Regions from separate parts of the Homo sapiens genome. Here region 1 is linked to region 2. A link means that fine-mapping ties the variant in region 2 to the plasma level of a protein whose gene starts in the linked region. Region 2 holds a variant in brackets. A gene starts in the other region. All regions are shown on their forward strands.

The links. A credible set is the group of variants that fine-mapping cannot tell apart. PIP is the chance, under the fine-mapping model, that this variant and not a neighbour inherited with it causes the effect. The UK Biobank Pharma Proteomics Project read protein levels with antibody pairs (Olink). The fine-mapping took linkage between variants from a reference panel, not from the people measured, so its PIPs are less certain.
Region 1: PON3 starts here. The variant in region 2 is the best candidate, but not a certain one, in a credible set for the plasma level of the PON3 protein (UK Biobank, PIP 0.57).

The regions. Positions count from the first base shown.
Region 1 is chr7:95,391,168-95,399,495 of GRCh38, forward strand. PON3 (paraoxonase 3) reads right to left here and starts at 5,208. Exons shown (of 9, transcript NM_000940.3): 1 at 5,110-5,208; 2 at 3,477-3,547. The coding sequence starts at 5,183. It overlaps LOC107986822 (a long non-coding RNA gene), which reads left to right and starts at 5,305. Exons shown (of 2, transcript XR_007060439.1): 1 at 5,305-5,861.
Region 2 is chr19:58,507,305-58,515,632 of GRCh38, forward strand. It overlaps SLC27A5 (solute carrier family 27 member 5), which reads right to left and starts at 4,688. Exons shown (of 10, transcript NM_012254.3): 1 at 3,964-4,688; 2 at 3,417-3,626; 3 at 2,543-2,701. The coding sequence starts at 4,651. It overlaps ZBTB45 (zinc finger and BTB domain containing 45), which reads right to left. Exons shown (of 3, transcript NM_001316979.2): 3 at 6,226-7,006. The coding sequence ends at 6,750. It overlaps LOC105372485 (a long non-coding RNA gene), which reads left to right. Exons shown (of 2, transcript XR_001754024.2): 2 at 2,480-3,819. RefSeq lists an enhancer at 4,391-4,905 and silencers at 6,690-6,739, 6,760-6,959, 7,070-7,119. The variant G/A (reference allele first, on the strand shown) is at 4,495.

The sequences.
Region 1 (8,328 bases), not on the chromosome of region 2:
ATTTTATTATCGTCACTTCACATCTTGGAGAGAAGTTTCTGATAGCCAGCTAAGAAAACACATGGAACCTATTATGGAGTAGAAGCATATATTGGAGACATGGGAAGCTATAGAATGGAAAGGAGTGGAAGAGAAGATACGTAGGTATTAAATACAGAGGCCACCTACTCGATAATCCTGCCTAGTGAAAGTCCTACTGAAGTATTCATATTTCAAGTGCAGCTTTGATTAGATGTCAAGGGCAGCCAGATAACGTCCTGGTTAAAACAATCCTTGACCCTCAAAAGCCTTGGATAAAAAGATGAACGTAATACAAAAAGATCTATGAGATATGATTTCCAGAGAAAGATATATTTCACCTTTCAACTTTTCTTCCCAGAAAAAAATGCTGGAGAAGGAAAACAAAATAAGAGTTTCTTCTACCAATAAAATAAACCTCAAAAGTCTGGGTCTTGAAAACACAAATAAGAATTTTTCTCCAGCTCTGTTACAGCCTACTATACCCTACCTAAAATCCTTCAGCAGCTTTTCAGGGCTTTGTAAAGCCTCTACTCCTCAACCAGTTGTGATTTGTGAGTATTATCTTATCCATTATCTTAATTTAAATATCTAGACTGCCTTGTTTTGATTAACCTGTATCTAGTAATATTTCAGCTGTTTGCATCTCAGATTTTCTGTTTTCCACTGTTGCAATACTTTCCTGAAGCTTCCAAAATAAAAAATGTGTTGTCAGTAGATCAGAAAGTTAGTGTTACACAACAGAGAGTAAAAAGGCATAGAAGGAAACGATCTTGGCTCATAAGCTAAGCCCATCACCCCCTAGTTCCGGACCATTGGGCAAGCAACTTAATTCTTCTGTATGTCAATTTCCTAATCTGCAAAGCATAGATAGCAGCATCCACTTTACAAATTGGTTATGAGGATGATGTAGATGTTTGTAAAGGACTCAACAGGCTGCTCATAGTCACCAGGCCTTTGATAAAGCAGCTTTTTCAAAACATATATATCAGTATTGTCCTACTGACACATGACCCATCATCATTCTAACTTGTTTAGTTCACCAAACATATGCCAATAGACATGAGAAGTAACATGGCATTTCTTTCTTCTGCTCCCAGCCTGCTTCCAACTATTTAAGCCATTTTCTTCAAAATATTTGGCAAATCAGAACATTGACCTAAGACTCACAATATTAACTGTAATTTTACCTTCTCAAATCTAGTTGAGTGATACAATTCGAGTCAGACTAGACCCTACCAATCATCTAGTCTAATTATACCTCTTGATTATTTGCAGGCTTATATATTTTGACAGTTATTTGTATAGTGAATATGAATACTACTACACCACAAAACAGTAAACAAATGAGTAAATGTCACATTTCCTTATTTTTAAAATCAAATTAAATCACTCTGATATCCTATTCCACTAAGTTGATGGAAAATCCAATCTGAGTCATTACTGGGTTTGTCTGTTAGGGTTATGAAATCATTTTAAGTGGTGGGTTCTAAACCTAAGCAGAATGTTTTGGAAAGGCCATCTGGCATTCATTCTACACTACGTATCATCGAATTATTCATTGCCAAAGTTACTGGTCCCTTTAATTTAGACAATTCTGCTACTTCCATGTAATGCATTGACACAAGGTCTTTACCTTAGCTGGAACACAGGGTCCAGCGTCCCTAAAGATACCTTGCAACCATTCCTTCTGAGGTCCTGCTCCTCTCCCAGAATGCTGTCAGCCAGTGGGGTAAGGATCCCCATTATTCAAAGATATCCACATATTCATATCCCTTCTCCAACAGAATCCCTTGAAGGGGCTCAGGTTTTTAAAAACAATTCAGGAAAGGCGTTTTCTTTGGTTTCTTCTGCTTTCCAGCTGCTAGCACAAACCACCTCTAAGACTAGGGAGTGCAAGGTTCAGATTACTTTATTTTTTAGAAATTGAGAGGCAAGAAAAGGCAGAAAACTCAAATCAAAAGGGTACTTTTTCTGTATTTTTAAATATAGCAATAAAATAGAAAATCATATCCCAAAATAAGCTATCTCATCACATTCTAATAAATAAGTCACAGTTCTTGGCCCTAGGGAGTTTACAATCTGATAGTGAAAGAGAGAACACTGCTAGCTATAATACAAGGCATGTGGCAGGTGTCATAAGTGAATCGGAGCTTCAGAGTGCTGTGAGAGTTCAGAGGAAGGAGATGAATTTTGCAGCTGATTTTAGTAAGCAGAGACAGAGGAATCAGTAAGTTTGGAGGGAATTTCATAAGCAAAGGTGAGAAGGTGAAAGAACATATTCCCAGAACAGGGAACACAATCTAGCCTGATTTTATTTTATTTTTCTGTTAGCAATGTCAGGAAGAATTGGAGCTGTGGAGCCCAAATAAGCAGGTGTGGCATTAACTAGTAGGTGAGATTAGCCCATGTCTCACGTAGAAGCATGAGGGACAAGCGGGGAACAATGGTTCCTGGATTTTGAACTGAATCTTTTGAGAATGGGGGTACCATACATAGGAAAAGTCTAGAAGCAGAGCTGGTTGTGGGTGGGAGGATGAGGGAGAAAACGACAGAAATGTAAAATAGATTTCAGCTTAGGGAGAGTTTGAGCTGGAGCTGCCCTTTAACTGACTAAAAAAGAAGGGCTGCAGTTTGAAAGGTTAGGGACTGGGCCATGGATTTTTTATGAATTTTTTTAAAAGAAGGTAGGTAGGCTGTGAGGTTCCTTCGTTTATTATTTTTTTTAAGACAAAGTCTCGCTCTGTCGCCAGGCTGGAGTACAGTGGCGCGATCTCAGCTCACTGCAACCTCCGATGACTCCCTGGTTCAAGTGATTCTCCTGCCTCAGCCTTCCGAGTAGCTGGGATTACAGGCACACGCCGCCAACATGCCCGGCTAATTGTTATATTTTTAGTAGAGATGGGGTTTCACCATGTTGGCCAGGATGGTCTCGATCTCCTGACCTCATGATCCGCCCCCCTCGGCCTCCCAAGTGCTGGGATTACAGGTGTGAGCCACTGCGCCCAGCCTGCTGTGAGGTTCTTGAGGGGAGGGGCTGAGTCATATTATTTGAAAAAAAATAACACTTGAAGCCAGGAATGACAATAAGGAAAGGGAGGGAGGAAGGAAAGAAGAAAGAAGCAAAAAAAGGAAAGGTAACAGAGGACAAGGAGGAGAGTGAAATACCACAGATGGGAAAGGAGAAGCATTCAGTGAGGGGAAAACCAGGGAGTGGTCAATGACATTCTTTAGGTAATGTGGAGAGATGTCAGTAAGGAAATGTGCTGAGAAAAACCCACAAAGAATGTCATTTAGTACACCCCTGAAGACCTTGCATGGGGCAGAGTGGACGGGGCAGATGTCCCACTGGGAGGGCTTAAGTAGTGACAGGTAATTAAATGAGCTGGTAGGGCTCAGTCAGGTGGATGACGACCAAGAAGCTGTGCTGGCTCCTCTTGGTACTGTCACATACATACCAAGTTCCTCAATAAGGTGGCAGTTTTCAGGTTCTACTGGCTCCACTTCTCGAGAGGCATTCACCCTTTCTCTGTAGAAGATAAAACCCAACCCTGGAAGTCAAGGCACAGCATTCAAAATGTATGTTTAAATGTGGACTTCAATCATCTTCGTGTTGGTTAACTATCTTTATCATAATTTATGAATGACATAACAAGTAAGTAGGTACTTCCTTTCATGTTTATTTACATAATGTAGACATTATGTGGGTATTTTACCTATATCAGCTAACCTTACCCAGTTATTGCTGAAAAACTGTATAATATGATTCAACATGGAAAATTCTGCTGCCCAAATAAAAGACACTATTTAATAGTATGAGTAATTGAACAATATTATTAATTTAAATGCACGAAATAGCCCTAATTTTCTAAAGTATCGTCTGTTATAAATCTGCACTTAATCCCCTACAGTCTTGCCCTTTGAACTTTTCCTTCCAAACTGCTTTCCCAAAATTCAACAGGGTCTCCTAATAGTCAAACTCTATCACTTTTGCTTTAATTTTTAAATTTTATGCTGACTTACTCCGCAAGTATGTAAATTCATTAAACCAACCACAATTTAAACAATTGGCCGATTTATTTTTCAACACAATTTTCTTGTTTCCAGAGTGAAAAGGAATGTTTCCACATTCTTCTAATATCAGGGATAATTTAAAATTTTTATTAAAGTATATTCAGAAAGACTCAATACTTATCTTACAGTCATTTATTTAAAAAAATACCCTTAGATCTACTTTATTATTATTACTATTATTTTATGATTCTCCATGTGGTTGCACTGGGAGCAAATGTAACAATAAAACTCTCAAACTGGAAGTATTACTAATAGGCACCAGGCACCTCAACAGATTCTAGACGTGATCCTCTAAGAAGACCAGCTTCAACTAAGAGAAATACATAAACACTCAAAGACAACTGAAAGCAAGCAGAGGCTTTCGATCCACTCATGAATGTGTATTATCACTTAAAGGTTCTTCTTTCTAGCCCAGTATTGACTTTTCCTGAGACATTTCTAGGCTGGCTATCACCATTGTATCTTCCACTTCAAAAGGTCAAATGCCTACAAAATGCCAGTTACCGCCTGCAGGTTTCAGCTGGTTTGCCCTGCTGTCTGGCCAGCTCTTTAAATCTAGGATAGGTTCCATAACCCAGTACTTCTGCATGGTTAGCCAGACCTGGGCAATGTCTCAGTCAGCCGTAAACATCCAACTGGTAGCCTGATCCTCTCTCCCAAGTCCGGCGTTTCCAATGGACGTCCTTTTTTCCCAAGCAGAATGTTGAGGGCGAGCTGGGAAAGGGGTCATCACGTTCAGAAAGTAAAAGGGGGTCATGACCTTCAGAAAGCAAAGTGGGGGATCATAACCTTCAAAAAATAAATGGGACTAATTCGGCTCGGCAGTCTTTGGAAACGCAAGTAGCTCACTTTCCCCATAAGCGAGTCTCAAGGGGCGGTTTGCTGGGTGAGATGGAGGAGTGAGGTTCCAAAGCTGCTCTTTCCTACCCGCTAGGAAGGGGGCGCCAGGCAGCCCCTGACCTCACTTGGAAGAGGAGAGAAAGAGAGTCGAAGACGCCCTGTCAAGATGCCACTCACCTAAACGCCAGGAACATCTCCCCGACTAAGGACAGGCCGACCCCCAGCAGGACCAGCGCCACGAGCTTCCCCATGGTCTCGGGGTGCCCAGCGGCGACTGCGCGGCGCCGAGAGCTCTCGGGGGCGCGGCGGGCGGTTCCTGCCTCGCGTACGGATTGGGGCCCGCTCGGCCCCGCCCGCACACGCCTCCTACTTACCTGAGCGGCCCGGGTGCCGCAGCAGGGCGCTGACGAGTCCCGCCGAGCCCCGCCGCCCGGGTTCAAGGCCGCCTTCACGCCCACGATTCCTTGTTTTTTGGGCAGAGGTCAAGGCTCAACGGAGAGGGAGCCCGGGACCGAGTTGTGGTGGGAGTTTGCTCCTAACACCCGCGAAATCCTACCTCAATTCCTCAGATGGCCTGAGGGAGAAACCGGAGGGCCCGGGAATGGCGGGGAGCTCCAGTTCAGAGCCGGAACTCCGGACTTCTGCAAGGCCAGACGTGAGGCGACACTGAATTGCTCCCGAGACGCGGGAAGGGCGAAGGCAATCGAAGCGAAGAGCTTTAACTCATCTTCTCCAGGATTTGGGGCACGGGAACCTGTCTCCTGACCTTCGTGCCTTACCTCGGAGTGTGCTGCCCAGACGGACTTGTGAATAGCTGCGTCTGTCCCCATAGTTAACGGGAGAAGGAAACACCAGGAGAAAAGAAGGAAAAGACAGGAAACGGGAAGAGGAGCAGAGGCGAGGAAGGGGAAGGTCATTTCCTTGGCAGGGTAGGCCCTCTTTCTTCTAGGTCTTGAGTTCCTGCCAGGCAAGAAATGCTCTTTCCCCTCTCCTGATGAACACCAGGTTGGAGGGGGAGGAACTGAAGATGCGGGAAGACTTGGGGAGTTCGGGCAAAGTAGCACATTCAAGCATGATCTATTTTTATTTACGGACAGAAAGAAATATTAGTTCTGTTAGGTTCCACCGAGTAAACTATTTGTTGAGAGAGCAAGATTTGCCAATCCTGGGGGTATTAAGGAAAGAAAAGGTGGTCCCTGACCTATGGGATACATGATTCTAGTATGAATACGTAATTACAGGATGAATAATGAAGCCCACCGCTTATGCAGTACTGACTGTGTGCTTTGCCTGTGCTGACACCTATGTTAACGCATTTAATTATCAACACAATCTCTGGAGTGTGGGTAGCCTTACCCCAATTTTACAGGTGAGACCTGCAGCACAGATTGCTTATGTGGCTTGCTGTAGGTCAGGCAGCTGTCAAGCAGCAGACTCCAAAATCTGGGCCCTTAACTGAGCTGCCTCTACCATGCTGCCTCTAGAAAATCTATGGAAGAAGGGTTGTATTAAAAGGACAGTGTAACGTCTTGAATTGTATAGATTAGAGTTCTTGTTAAGATGACTAATGTTAAAAGAGTGCAAGCAGAGGAGGAATCGAAGTCAGGAGGGCTCACAGAGCTGAGGGGCCTGGGGTGTGATGTAGACATGCATGCAGGGTTTGGGAGTCAGGCTGCCTGGGTTTGGATCCAGCCTAGATAAAGTACTCAGCTTTATTGAGCTACAGATTCCTCTTCTGTAAAAGAACGTCCACCTCATAGGTAGCTTAAAATTAAATGTGATAATGAGTGTCAAGTGCTCTGCACTGTGCTTGATACGTTTTATGAAGTCAGTAAAGATTAACCACTAATTAATTCTGAACTTTGCTTGAGATTGTAGGCTCCTGTGGGAAGGACTCCATCGCATTGATCACTGGGTTTTCCCGTGCCATCCATAGAACTTTGTGCTTAATAATGACTCAATAAATATGATTAGATGGATGGATGTAAAATATGGACTTGGGAGAAAGAAAAATTAGAAGAATAAAAAATAAATGGAATGAATAATGAAATAATAATAGTCATATTATTATTTCACTCAGCGTTTGCATGCCTTGTCACATTACTTCTTATTAACCTTACCTACAAAGAAGTAAAGTGAATTGCTTGCTGCAAGTTTGATGGGACTAAAAAGAAGGAAAGTGAGGCTTTGAGGCTTAGAGAGGTAAAGTAATAATTCACTTAAGGTTACATAACTAAGTGTCAGTGCCTCCATCTGGACTCAGATCAGGTGACTCTAGAGCTCATGTTCCTTATCACTGTGTTTGCAGCATAGCATGAAGAAGGGGGTAAAGAAAGAAGCGTATTCTTGGGCAATTGATTGAAGTTCTGTGTTAGCTATAATTTGTTTAAAAATTCTTCACTTTAGGCAGAGGAGTCTCTGTGTGTGTGTGTGCATGTGTGTGTGTGTGTGTGTGTGTGTGTGTATACATTAACTTTAAACCCTAGAAGTGGTTAGTTTTTATTCGAATACCATAATCAGTAATTCAAATCCCCAGCATGGTAAATTAGCATTAAAGAATTCCAAACTTTGGAGGCCACTGTATCGAGTGTCACCATCTAAATCTGCTCTTGGCAATAGGCCAAATTGACTTGGTCAAGAGGCCACAGGTACATCAGTATTGTAAAAGGGGTTTGTTGACTTTGAAAGAGCAGGACAGATAAATTCAAAAGGCCTAAATTCAAGATCCAATTCCATTTGTAGTTGGCCCTTTAATCTTTTGAAATCACTTATCACCACCTCTGGACCCTTCTTTCCTTATATGTATAGTGGGGCTTTCAAAGAGCTAATGTAGACCAAATTCAATGCTATACGTTTAAACAGTAAGTAACACAATACTATATATAGATCTAGGGAGTCCCACACCATTGATAATCAAAATGCCATTAAGGGGGATGCAGAATATACATGTGGTATAATTCTAAGGTATAAAATTAGGGGAATTACATATTATCCACATATGTGTGTGTGTGTGTGTGTGTGTGTGTATATATATATATATATATAAACAATCTAGACATAAACTGAAGAGTAGTTACTTTGAGAGCAGAAGATTGGGGTCGTGGAGAGTGGGGAGGTCAGTGAGTATGGAAGGAGACTTTGCTTTTACTGTACGACCCTCTGTAATGTTTAAAATTTTCAAACTTTATATCTTGATCATGTTTACAATCGCTACATTTTTAATTTAAAAAGATTGTTTCTATCAGTGAATCTTGCCAAGAAAAAGAGGTGGCGATAGAGAAAAAGAGCAACAAATCAAAAGAGATTATGATTATATTGCAATAAAGCTGTTTTTTAAAAAGAGGATATGGATTTTAGAACATTAGGAAACATTGTCCTAAGCCATAGAAACCACTG
Region 2 (8,328 bases):
AGGGACCCCTAACAGACGGACCGGCTGGAGCCACGGCAGAGGAACATAAATTGTGAAGATAACATGGACATTTATCACTTCCCAAATAATACTCTTATAATTTCTTACGCCTGTCTTACTTTCATCTCTTAATCCTGTTATCTTCATAAGCTGAGGATGTACGTCACCTCAGGACCCTGTGATAATTGTGTTAACTGTACAAATTGATTGTAAAATGTGTGTTTGAACAATGTGAAATCAGCGCACATTGAAAAAGAACAGAATGAGAGTGATTTTAGGGAACAAGGGAAGACAACCCTAAGGTCTGACTGCCTGCGGGGCTGGGCAAAAAGAGCCATATTTTTCTTCTTGCAGAGAGCCTATAAGTGGACGTGCAAGTAGGAGAGATATTGCTAAATTATTTTCCTAGCAAGGAATATTAACATTAAGACCCTGGGAAAGGAATTCATTCCTGGGGGGAGGTCTATAAATGGCCGCTCTGGGAATGTCTGTCCTATGCAGTTGAGATAAGGACTGAGATGCACCCTGGTCTCCTGCAGTACCCTCAGGCTTACTAGGGTGGGGAAAAACCCCGCCCTGGTAAATTTGAGGTCAGACCAGTTCTCTGCTCTTGAACCCTGTTTTCTGTTGTTTAAGATGTTTATCAAGACAATATGTGCACCACTGAACATAGACCCTTATCAGTTCTGCTTTTGCCCTTTGCCTTGTGATCTTTGTTGGACCCTGATCAGTAGTTCCGTTTTTTGCCCTTTGAAGCATGTGATCTTTGTACCTATTCTCGGTTCTTACACCCCCTTCCCTTCTGAAATCCTTAATAAAACTTGCTGGCTTTGAGCTCAGGTGGGCATCATGGTCCTACCGATATGTGATGTCACCCCCGGAGGCCCAGCTGTCAAATTCCTCTCTTTGTACTCTTTCTCTTTATTTCTCAGCTGGCCAGCACTTACGGAAAATAGAAAGAACCTACATCGAGGCCGGGCACAGTGGCTCACACCTGTAATCCCAGCACTTTGGGAGGCCGAGGTGGGAGGATCATGAGGTCAGGAGATTGAGACCATCCTGGCTAAATGTGAAACCCCATCTCTACTAAAAATACAAAAAATTAGCCGGGCGCGGTGGCAGGCGCCTGTAGTCCCAGCTACTGGGGAGGCTGAGGCAGGAGAATGGCATGAACCCAGGAGGCAGAGCTTGCAGTGAGCTGAGATCGCACCACTGCACTCCAGCCTGGGCGACAGAGCGAGACTCCATCTCAAAAAAAAAAAAAAAAAGAACCTACATTGAAATATTAGGGGCAGGTTCCCCCGATACCACCATGCGTGGCTTTTTAAAATTTTTTTTTAACAGATGGCCTCTTACTATGTTGCCCACGCTGGTGTTGAACTCCTGGACTCAAGTGATCCTCCTGCCTTGGCACCCAAAGTGCAGGGATTATAGGCATGAGCAACCACACATGGCCATGATAATAGCTGGAAAACACAAAAAGGCCGGGCGTGGTGGGTCACACCTGTAATCCCAGCGCTTTGGGAGGCAAATGCCCGCAAATGTGGGCAGATCACAAGGTCAGGAGTTTGAGACCAGCCTGACCAACATGGTGAAACCTAGTCTCTAGTAAAAATACAAAAATTAGCTGGGCGTGGTGGTGCGTGCCTGTAATCCCAGCTACTCAGGAGGCTGAGGCAGGAAAATCGCTTGAACCTGGAAGGCGGAGCTTGCAGTGAGCCGAGATCATGCCACCGCACTCCAGCCTGGGCGACAGAGCGAGACTCTGTCTCAAAAAAAAAAAGAGAGAGAGAGAGAAAATAGCCAGGTGCGGTGGCTCACACCTGTAATCTCAGCACTTTGGGAGGCCAAGGCAGGTGGATCACGAGGTCAGGAGTTCAAGACCAGCCTGGCCAAGATGGTGAAATCCCGTCTCTACTAAAACTACAAAAATTAGCCGGGCGTGGTGGTGGGCGCCTGTAATCCCAGTTACTCAGGAGGATGAGGCAGGAGAATTGCTTGAACCCAGGAGGCAGAGGTTGCAGTGAGCCAAGATCATGCCTCTGCACTCCAGCCTGGGTGACAAAGCAAGACTCTGTCTCGAAAAAAAATAAATAAATAAAAATTAAAATAAAAAAAAAAGAGAGAAAACAAAAAGAACAAGCTATGGAGAGGTCCCCATCTAGACTCTGAATCAAGAGTCCAGAGAGACAGCCCTGTGGAGTGCTTGAGAGCACTCCTACTCCAGCTGCCCTTGGGGCCATGTCACAAATCTGGGCCAGCATCCCCATCATCTCCTGAGCACCACACCTTCCTTGGATGCCTGTGACCATCACTCGTATCAGGTCTTGTCACCTCCTGACCAAAGCATGGCCATCAGGGACTGTGTGGGTGTCCAAGCTTCTGTCCATGCGGCCCTGGTAGTCATTGGTGGGTGTCCCTTCTCAAAAGTGAGAACACAGGGTGCTGGGTAACCTATGGTGTCTTTTTGCCTTGACAGCCCCACGCCGACACTTACTCCCGTGGTCCTGTAGACTGGAGGGATCCTCAGAAGTGGGCTTACCGAGATCTAAGCAGCCGAGGATCCCAACGACAAGTCCCATCACGTGGTACAGAGGCAGGACCGTGTAAACCACATCATCAGCTGTGGCCCCAGATAAGGACAGCATCTTGCTCATCTGCAGTACCCGCTCATGCGTGAGGATGGCTGGCTTCGGGAGGCCTTGGGATGAAGGCATGGCAAGGGCAGGGTGGTGACATGACAGCACAGAGAGGGGCCTGACCAGAGGGATAGATCTCCAACAGCCAGGCCTACATTGGGGTTTGAGGCTCTCAGAGAACAGTCAAGTATAGGGATTTGTGGTTGGGTTCACAGGCTGAATTTGGACTGAAAGTAATATGTCAAGATCAAAGGTTTCAGTGGCTGTTTACTGGACACAGGAAGAATTCTGGCATTGACCTCTCAAATTACATTGGGGGTCAGAGTTCAGGCCAAATATCAAAATCAAGTCTGGGAGCAGTGGCTCACGCCTGTAATCCCAGCATTTTGAGAGGCTGAGTTGGGCAGGTCCCCTGAGGTCAGGGGTTAGAGACCAGCCTGGCTAACTTGGGGAAACCCTGTCTCTACCAAAAATACAAAAATTAGCTGGGCATAGTGGTGTGTGCCTGTAATCCCAGCTACTCAGGAGGCTGAGGCAAGAGAATTGCTTGAACCCAGGAGGTGGAGGTTGCAGTGAGCCGAGATTGCACCACTGCAGTCCAGCCTAGGCGACAGAGCGAGACTCTGCCTCGAAAAAAAAAACAGCCAAACAAAAAACAAATGTCAAAATCAGAGGGTAAAGTGGTTTCAGAGGTCAACACTGAGTCACAAGTCAAGTGTGGGGTCAGGTCAGCCTGAGAGTTCAGAGGCTGGTGCTAGGGCTAATGGGCACCCTCACCAGTGGTCCCCGAGGTATAGATGAAGAGGGCAGGGCTTCTCCATGTGATCCCAGCACGCAGGTCAGCAGGCACTGGGTGGGAGGGCGCTGCATCCAGGGCAGCCCCCAGAGCCCCCACCCCTGGTGTAGGGGAGGTATGGCTGAGGTAGAAGCAGCGGATGTTCTCAGCCTGCAGCTTGGGAAGGATCTCCTCCAGGCTCTCCCGGAGGTCTGCAGAGATGGGTCAGAGGAGAAACAGAGGCAAGGCTCACCTTTGAGGTTGCGAGGCGGGATCTGAGACCCACAGATGCAGGCAGAGGAGCAGCTAGTAGAGAAAAGCATCCATGTTGTTTGGTAAAGAATCCCATCATTAGTATTTTTGGTCAAATTGTGGGAAAATTAAACTCTGATGACCTGAGAACTACTTTCTGCTCATAAGTCTTGATTATAATTGCCTGTGAAAGTAGGCAGGTGGGGACCAAGGGCCTCTGCCAGTCCCAGCAGAACCCCTGTCCTATAGTCCCTGCCCTTGCCCCCTTCCATTCTCCACTGGCTCCAAGGCCCTCACCTGGGTCCACCACCAGCACCCGGGCCCCAGAGCTCAGCACAGAGTGCGCCAGGGGCATCCCCCGGCCATGCGGGTTGATCCAGGCTGTTGGGCAGCCCAGCTTGGCCAGCCCCAGCCACATACACAGGGCTGGAACGGCCTGGGAAGCCAGCACAAGGAGGGCAGTAGGCTCCCCGGCACACAGGCTCGCAGGGTCACCCAGCTCAGCCTTCAGGGCCCATGCCGCCTGGCAGGCCCGGGCATCCAGCTCACCAAAGGTGACTGAGCCGGCCCCAGGCCCCGTCCACACCAAGAGTGCCCTGCCAGGCTGCGCTCGTGCTCGCCGCTCGAAGGCATCTACAAAGGTGTCAGGCGGCTGCCGGCTCAAGCATCCCCTGATCTTCAGGCCCAGGTGGAGGATCTTGGCCAAGAAGATCACATCAGCCGGCAGCCAGCGTAGTCCTGGGGGCAGCCGTGCTGGCAGGAGGGTTAGTGCCAGGGCCGCAGCTGCCAGGCTCAGCCCATGGGGCACCCAGGGGCCGAGCCAGGGCC[G/A]TGCTAACATGGCCAGCCCAAGTAGCACGCAACATGTGGGATCCCCCAGGAGCCAGCGCAGGGTCAAGGCCACAGCGACTGGCCACACTGGCTGCCCCAGGCCCCAGAGCAGGAGCAGCAGCAGCAGCAGCAAGGCCAACTGTTGCCTGACACCCATGGTACCAGCTCCTCCCTAGGAGCAGCAGCTGTGGAGTGTTCAGGCTCACCTCTGGCCCCTCAAGAGTAGCCCAATGGCTCCTCCCCAGGGGTGGTGGCCCTGGCACTGCTGACAGTGGCTGGTCCTCTCCCCAGGACTTTGCCCCCAGCCCTTCTCCTCTACGTTTGTTTGCTCTGCCTGGTCTTGTGTGTGGGTCCAGCCCCTCTCTGCCTGGCGCTAACCCTTTCCATCACTGGCCTCTGGGTTCCCAGGTCTCTGCCCCTTGGGCACCACTAGCCTCCTTCCTGCTGTCCTGCTTGCCCCATCCACCCTCCAGGGCTGGCATCTAACTCCCTTGCCTCCCCTCCCATCCCTGCTGGGTACCAGACACTCAGAGCACAGAAATCCCTGCCCTTGGGAACACTCCAATCAGGCCAAACAGAAAAGCAACAGGACAGCAAGGTGGACCTCATTGGGAGGTCCTCCTGTGACACCCACTGAAACCCTGAGGAGAGGGGCTCAGCCAGGCTAAGCCCCTTGTCCCATGATCCGAGGAATCGTACCCTCCTGCCAGGCATACAGCAAGTGCTCAGTAAATACAGGAACACTGGCATCGCCTGGATTCAAACCCAGCTCTGCCCCCCACCCATGTGCTTGCTCTGACTCTCTGCTCCACCTCTGGCTTTGACGACGATGGAGTCCTGGGGTTCAGGAGACTGAAGTCAGCCCATGATGCACACAGTTGGATCATGAAAGCCCTGGCCTCTCACCTTGAGGAAGCAGTCTCAGAAGGTGAACCCAGAGGAGCTGCCATTGGCCTAGGAGCCTGGCAGGTCAGGCTGGGGTATGGCCTGGGGCCATACCCCACTCCACCAGCTCCAAATCCTTATGGCAGGGCACCTAGGCTAGGAGCCACTATTGTGCTGAAGAGGAGAGGGGCAAAGAGTGGCTGCTCTCTCCGCTGGATGCAGGGGCCTGGGACACTGGCTGGCCAGTAGGGGTGGTGTCCCCAACCGCCCAGCAGTCAGCCCCAGGATCCCACCCCTCACTGTTTCCTGCCCCCAACACGGCCATCGGAGCCCTCCCTGAACTTTGCCCCCAGCACCAAGGGCAGATATATGGGGGCTTATATACCCTCAGTGCAACCTGGCCCCAAAGATCCCCCTGGGCTCCCCACAAGTAAGGTGCTCAGCCATGTCCATCAAGGTCGGGGAGGGGAAGTCTTAAGTCCAAAAGACCCTTAGAGCCTGACTGGAAGATCTATGGGAGGGGCCTTAAAGGTCGTGGACAGCAGCAACCAGGAGTATGATGGGGCTTTCACGTGGCCTCCCTCTCGGAGACCCACCTCAGATGTGGCCTGCCTATCCTACTCCCCACAGGACTGAGGGATCCAAGAGAACCAAGTGCTGGTTATATATGCAGCCCACCTTAGCCCCTACAGAATAGAGGTCCTAGATGGCAAAGTGGACCATCCTGTTCCTGCCCAGGACAGCCTGTGGGCCGCATGGATGCCACCCAAGAACAGGGACGCTGAACCCTGACACTCACATCTTGTCTATGAGGGCAAGGCACGCACTGATCCAGGTGCTCACAGCTTCGTGGTTTAGGCCCCATGGCCTACAGTCCTTTATTAGAGCGAGAGTCCCGAGGCCCAGCCCCCATATATGATGGGTCCACTTGAGTCTCCTTAGGCGCCCCATGAGGGAGTAACAGCTTGGGTAGAGAGCTAGGGACCTTGCCCAGCCTGACCCTGGGGCAGGCAAGCGGCCCCCCAGCCCCCACCACCACCCCAGGAGAGGGCGGGGTGAGAACCGGAGTCAAATCTTGGGCCGGGTCCAAGCGCCTGAGCGCCCGGTTTACGCAGGAAATAGTCCAGTTCTCAGAAGTGGTCTAACCAGCCCCAGCCCCAGCCCGGCACCACCTGGAGGGTTCAAGTACATGGAGGAGAGGAGTAAGGCGGACTTAGGCCCTGGTATGGAGAAAGGGTGAAGGGAGAGAGAGGACCTGCGCTCAGGAGGGAGCGTGGTCTAGTGGCGGGAACCACGGGTCCCGCAGCGGGCGTGGCCGACTGTGCGGGAGGCCCCGGATCCACCGTGGGCGAGGCCAGGCCCCAGCGCCATCAGGGCGCAGGGTGCGCCGCCAGGTGGCGCTCCAGCAGCGCGCGGTGCGAGAAGACCTTGCCGCAGGCGGGGCAGGGCGCGCGCTCGGGCCGGTGAGTGCGCATGTGCACGTTGAGCGAGCTCTTCTGCGTGAAGCGCTTGGCGCAGACGGCGCACTGGAAGGCGCGCACGCCGGTGTGCGTGACCATGTGTTTGAGCAGGTAGTCGCGTAGAGAGAAGGATCGCCAGCACACGGCGCACTGGTGCGGCTTCTCCCCTGCGGAAGACAGGGCGGGCCGCGAACGCAAGTCAGACTCTACAGCTCCCCGCCCCCACCCCACCCCACCCCCACCTGGGCTCCTGGACCTAGCAGGGGCTCCCCTCCCCTCCCGAACCACCACCCCGGGATCCCTTGCCTATCAGAGAACCCTCCCCTCACTATGGGATCTTCCTGCCCAGCAGGGACACCCCCTCCTCTCCAGGACCTCCCTTCACGTTGGGACTTTCCTGCCCAACAGGGATCCTCATACACTGTGAGGTACCCCTCTCCCATCCCTTCCTGGCAGGGACCCCCTTTCTGTTATCCTGGGATATCACTGTGACAGGGCACCCCTAAATCCAGCAAGCACCCTGTCTGCAAGGAACCCAGCCTGTCTGGAACATCTGTTGGCCATCTGGACTGCCCACTGGGATCTCCCTCTACCCTCAGGTACCCTCCCCCTCAACCCCTACCCACCCGGCACAGGGAGACACTGGGTCCTGGCCCCCCTCGCCTATGCCCATAGAGTCCCCTAAACTCAGTCTGACAAGGCCAGTGCCCTTTCATAAGGAGGGACCTGGGCACATCTGCCACCTTCCTGCAGGAAGCCCCAGTTGCCCAGAACCCCTGCCCGCTGGCCACTATAATGTCCTTGGTGTGATAGAGAGAGCTCCTCATTCTGGGTTAGGGGAGGGGAGGCAGTCTGAGTCCACCCCTAGATTCATCAGATGTTAACAAAATGCCTGTCTCAGCCAGGCGTGGTGGCTCACACCTGTAATCCCAGCACTTTGGGAGGCCAAGGCAGGCAGATCGCTTGAGGCCAGGAGTTCGAGACCAACGTGGTGAAACCCCATCTCTACTAAAAATACAAAAAATAGCCGGGTGTGGTGGTGCACGCCTGTAATCCCAGCTACTTGGGAGACTGAGGCACAAGAATCACTTGAACCCAGGAGGCAGAGGTTGCAGTGAGCCGAGATCACACCACTGCACTCCAGCCTGGGCAACAGAGGGAGACTCGGTCTCAAAAAAAATTAAAAAAAAAAAAACCCTATCTCAGTGGCAGTGGACTGAAAGGCAGTGCCTGCCAGAGGGTACCCCAGAATAACCTGGCCCAGGCACCTGGCTCAGATCACACACTTCACACAGCCAGCACTACCCTGGGGCCTCTGGCAGTTCCCTGGAGACTAATCACCCAACTCCCTTATTCCCAGGCCCCTGGCTTCTCCCAGGGCAGCCAGAGGTGATTTTAAACTGACATCTCAGTCACTCCCCAGCTTAGAACACCATGGCTTCCCCACCACTCACAGTCAAATCCCAAGTTCCAGCCCCTGCAGAAACCC